Linked DNA regions of Homo sapiens: region 2 is linked to region 1. Evidence: fine-mapped expression QTL. Tissue or cell type: whole blood. Region 1 holds a variant in brackets; the other region holds the start of a gene. All regions are shown on one strand. Distances are from middle to middle.

Region 1 (2,752 bases):
TATATTATTGCTCTTCTTGCTGTGGTCTCTCCTGTTGCCCAGTCTGGAATGCAGTGGTACGATCTTGGCTCACTGCAGACTCGACCTCCTGAGCTCAAGCGATCCTTCCATCTCAGCCTCCCAAGCAGCTGAAGCTACATACATGTACCACAACACCCAGCTGAATTAAAAAAAGAAAATTGTGTTTTTTTGATAACAGAGTCTTGCTCTGTTATCCAGGCTGGAGTGCAGTGGTGCAATCTTGGCTCACTGCAACCTCTGCCTCCTGGGATCCTTGCCACCTCAGCCTCCAGAGAAGCTGGGACCACTGTTGCACACCCATGCTCAGCTATTTTTTTTTTTTTGTATTTTTAGTAGAGGCGGGGTCTTGCTATGTTGCCCAGGCTGTCTCGAACTCCTAAACTCAAACAGTCTGCTTGCCTCGGCCTTCCAGAGTGTTAGGATTACAGGCGTGAGCCACTGCACTCAGTTAGTATATTTTTAATAGATTTTTTTTTTTGAGAAGGAGTTTTGCTCTTGTTGTCCAGGCTAGAGTGCAATAGCATGATCTCAGCTCACTGCAACCTCTGCCTCCCAGATTCTCCTGCCTCAGCTTCCCGAGTAGCTGGGATCACAGGCACGTGCCACCACGCCTGGCTAATTTTTGTATTATTAGTAGGGACGGGGTTTCACCATGTTGGCCAGGCCAGTCTCAAACTCCTGATCTCAGGTGATCCACTCGCCGTGGCCTCCCAAAGTGTTGGGATTACAGGTGTGAGCCATTCTCCTGGCCTTTAATAGATTTTAATTCTTCATTCTTCTTTATTTCCCTCTGCTCCTGTACATAGGGTGTATTGGTAGTAATTAACTTTACGATACAGTTCATAGGTTGCAAAATGTTGAGATGGATGATAAGGGAATTGCAGGAGGAATGGACATCATCCAGAAACGCTAGACTTGGGAGTGGATATGATAATTAGCAAGACTTTGACTTGTCTCCCTTCGGAGAGAGTGAATTTTTTTTTTTTTTTTTTTGAGACGGAGTCTTGCTCTATTGCCTGGGCTGGAGTGCAGTGGCATGATCTCTGCTCACTGCAACCTCTGCATCCCAGGTCCAAGCGATTCTCCTGCCTCAGCCTCCTGAGTAGCTGGGATTATAGGCACCCACCACCA[C/T]GCCCGGCTAATTTTTGTATTTTTAATAGACACGGGGTTTCACCATCTTGGCCAGGCTGGTCTTGAATTCCTGACCTGACCTCAGGTGATCCACCCACCTCGGCCTCCCAAAGTGTTGGAATTACAGGCGTGAGCCACCGTGCCCGGCCGAGTGAATGTATTTTTGACAGAAAGAGGGATAGACTCACTATACTACATAGGCCAGATATGTTGTTGCTGTTTTTTGAAGACAGAGAATAGGATATAGATGACTGTTGGGCATGTAAAACAGTGCACCGCAGGGGCATTTGTCATTTTGTTGATTGTCCAACAACTTCTCTGCCTATTTTGGGGAATTCCTTTGTAGGTGTGTTTGTGCAGTATAGTGTCTAGATAAGCCGAAGTGGGAAGGTCCTTCTCTCTACCTTAGCTACTTTGTTTTTTTTGGGGGGGAGGGAGGGTTTGGGTTTTTTTGTTTTTTTTTGAGACGGAGTCTCGCTCTTGTCACCCAGGCTGGAGTGCAGTGGTGTGATCTTGGCTTACTGCAACCTCCACCTCCCAGGTTCAAGTGATTCTCCTGCTTCAGCCTCCCAAGTAGCTGGGATTACAGGCACGCGCCACCACACCTGGCTGATTTTTGTATTTTTAGTAGAGAGGGGGTTTCACCATGTTAGCCAGGCTGGTCTCGAACTCCTGACCTCAGGTGATCCACCCACCTCGACCTCCCAAAGTGCTCAGATTACAGGCATGAGCCACCGTGCTCGGCCAGCTACCTTGTTTGAAGGCGGTATCCTGAGCTGCTAATCCAATGCTTCAGTTCTGTTGCCTAGTTCCCTTTCTCCACCCCAACAGGGCAGACCAGCCCCGAGTGGTTTCCCAGGGCCCTGTGGCTGGTGCCTGATGCAGGGTGAGTTGAGAGCACTTTGGGGACCCAGGACAAGAATCTCCTCCTTCCATGGCTACTCCGGCCTCAGCTCAGGTCCAGGGTGAGTTGCTGTCTTCCACTGGGTGAAGCTCTAAGGATGGTGTCCTTTTTTCTTGTCTTCCCCTCCCCAGAGAGCAGGAGATAAACCACTGAAGTGCTGAGGGGCCCCACAGGTAAGAAGGTGCTGGCCCTTCAGTTCCCCGACCCTCTGTCTTCACAAACGTTACCAGGGCCTGAAGCTGAACCCCTGTAGGGACAGAGAGATGCAGTCAAATACAGGCTGTTGGGGTCCCACAGACCTGGGTTTAAATCCCATTCCTGATAGTATATCAAATCTCCAGTCTCCATATGATGACAAAAAATTCAAGTGAAAAACAAAAAGTTAGCCGGGAGTAGTGGCTCACGCCTGTAATCCCAGCACTTTGGGAGGCCAAGATGGATGGATCACCTGAGGTCAGGAGTTCAAGACCAGCCTGGCCAACATCATGAAACCCTGTCTCTACTAAAAATGTAAAAAATTAGCCAGGCATGGTGGCAGTTACCTGTAATCCCAACTACTGGGGAGGCTGAGGCAGAAGAATCGCTTGAACCCAGGAGGCGGAGGTTGCAGTGAGTGGAGATTGCACCATAGCGCTCCAGCCTGGGCAACAAGAGCGAAACTCTGTCTCAAAAAAAGAAAAAAAAGGGAAACAAAAA
Region 2 (2,500 bases), 230 kb before region 1:
TAGACTGCTGCCCCGGGTGCTGTCCGGGAGAGGGTCTGGTGCCGCCCTGACTTGGCAGCGCTTTTCCTGGATGTGCCCTAGCCGTCCCCACCTCCTGCTGAGTTCTGTGAGTCAGAGACGGAACCCTGGGGTCTCCTGGCAGGCCCCACAGTAAGGCCTGGGCCCCCGCACGTTGCAGCCTTTCCTTCCAGACCAGCGGACAAGCCTGGTCTGGAACTATGCTCCTCTCCAGCCATGGCCAACCTGAAGACCCCCACCCCCAGCCGCTGCCAGCCCCTGCCCTGGGGCTCTGCTGTGCCCCTCTCCAGCCCCTGGGCCCTCGGACAGCGCCCCCGTCCTCCCGGCTGTTAGCCTGGGAAGGGGGCCAGGCCCTGAGCTCAGACCTTGGCGATTCCAGAGTGTCTGAGGCCCAGAGCCAGCCCCGCCAGCACGGCCAGACGAAAGGAAAGGGGGGAGGTGGCAGGGTGGGCACCAGGAAGCCATTCCGAGGGGGCTGGCAGGGAAGCTGGGTTCTAGCTTTGTTCTTTCTGCTCCTCTTCTGGACCCCACAGACTTCCTCCTGGGACCTCCGTGAGCCCTGGCCAAAGGCTGTCCCCACCCTTTAGCCCTTTCCTCAGAGGGGATTGGACCAGCACTAACGAGAAGTTACTTTGGGGCCCTGAGACCCCCACGTTTGCAAGGGAGGCTGGGAAAGAGCTGGAAGGCCTGGGCTCCGGCTCCACCCGGCCTCCATCGTCAGTGTGACCCGGCAGGGCCACCTCTCTCCCTCAGCCTCGGTATCTCGCTCTACGCAGGCCTCCCCGCCCCGCCCCGCCCGGAGGAATCCGCGGCCGGCCAGACGGTCCCAGGTGAGGGCCCTCTGGAAAGGGCCCAGCGCGGCCGCGGGTTCCGGCGGGGGCGGGCATCTGGGGTGGGGACTGTCCCCGCGCCACCCCCCAGCCTCCGCCAGCCTGCACACCCTCGCTTCTCCAGGCGGCAGAGGCGACGCTTTAAACAACAAAAAAAAAAAAACTGTGTCCCTGGCCCGGGGCCAGCGTCCCAGCCCCCCTCGCCGCCGCCGCGCCGCGCTCCAGCCAGGGAAAACAACTGCTCACTTCTCCCTGAGCCCTCCCCGCGCGCTCCCTGCCTCCCCGCGGCCGCGGGAGAGGAGCCCGGCCAGGGGGAGGCGCGGAGCGGGCCGGCCGCCCGGCCTTCCTCTCCCTCGCTCCTCCTCTCCGCCTCAACTTGCTCCGGCCTCCTCGCTCCTGCCTGAGTTCGGGGCCTGGTCTGGGCTTCGTCCTGGGGCTGGGAAGTTTCTGCGCTCCCCGCTGTCCAGTCTGCATCTCCGCGCCTCCCGCCGGGCCCCCGCGGTCCCCTCCCGCCCGCTTCCCCCGCTGCCCTCCCTCGCTGCCCCCTACCCTCTCCCGGGGCTCCCGGCCCTCTACTCCCTTCGGGCGCGGGCCCCTCGCCCCGCCCGGGCGCGCCCCCCCTCCCCCGGGTCCTGCGGCCCCGGATGCCCGGGCCCCGAGGGGCTGCTGGCGGCCTGGCCCCTGAGATGCGCGGGGCGGGGGCGGCGGGGCTGCTGGCGCTGCTGCTGCTGCTGCTGCTGCTGCTGCTGGGCCTGGGCGGCAGGGTCGAGGGGGGGCCGGCCGGCGAGCGGGGCGCAGGCGGGGGCGGGGCGCTGGCCCGCGAGCGCTTCAAGGTGGTCTTTGCGCCGGTGATCTGCAAGCGGACCTGTCTCAAGGGCCAGTGTCGGGACAGTTGTCAGCAGGGCTCCAACATGACGCTCATCGGAGAGAACGGCCACAGCACAGACACGCTCACGGGCTCCGGCTTCCGCGTGGGTGAGGGCCGGGGGCACGGCTGGGGGCAGGGGAAGGACAGGCACCAGGCCCGGTGGGAGAGCTAGTGGGGTCTTGGCCTTAGAGACTGGGGGCTGAGGGTATAAAGGGCAGAGATCCGAGGGCCTGGGGGACCAGGGGCCTCAGGGAACTTGGGAGGCTGGAACTCTGGGGGCCAGAGTTGGAGGGCTGCATGGAGGCCTGGACTTTGAAGCTTTGCGTTAGGGTTGGGGCCTAAGGGGTGGGGAAATGCAGAGGTCCTGGATGACACTGGCTTCCCAGAAGGTGCTGAGTTCTGAGCAGGAGCACACAGGGTTTTTGAGGAATGTGAGCCGGGGACAGGAAGCCTCAGAGAAGGGCTAAATATTCCCGCAAGAAGCAGACTTGCTGGAAGAAACAAGAAAAGTCTTTACAAAATGTCTAAAGTAGGGCCTGCCAGAGTAGACACCTGCATTCCCTGGGAGGAGGAGCTAAGGTCAGGGCTGGGGATGGGAGCCGGCTACTGGCAAGGTCTGAGTAGGGAGGGTGTTGAGGCCTAAAAGTAGGGTGCAGGCCTGAAGGTAGGGACTAGTTCGGGGTTCTCAGCCTCTCCTTTTCCAATGCCTCCCCATAAGCTCCTAACATCCTGCCTCAGAGGCCCTCAGGGCCCCCCTCATCCTCCCCCAAGCCCCTACACCCTC

Evidence for each region. PIP is the estimated chance that this variant, and not a neighbour inherited with it, causes the effect.
Region 2: it holds the start of LTBP3, and the variant in region 1 is fine-mapped to the expression of LTBP3 in whole blood (INTERVAL, PIP above 0.99).

Annotation. Positions count from the first base shown.
Region 1 is chr11:65,325,939-65,328,690 of GRCh38, reverse strand. LOC124902691 (a long non-coding RNA gene) reads right to left here. Exons shown (of 2, transcript XR_007062728.1): 2 at 466-2,303. Among named protein-coding and RNA genes, the nearest start is that of DPF2, 6.5 kb to the left of the region's middle. The variant C/T (reference allele first, on the strand shown) is at 1,153.
Region 2 is chr11:65,556,952-65,559,451 of GRCh38, reverse strand. LTBP3 (latent transforming growth factor beta binding protein 3) reads left to right here and starts at 1,093. Exons shown (of 28, transcript NM_001130144.3): 1 at 1,093-1,823. The coding sequence starts at 1,493. RefSeq lists silencers at 815-974, 1,025-1,264.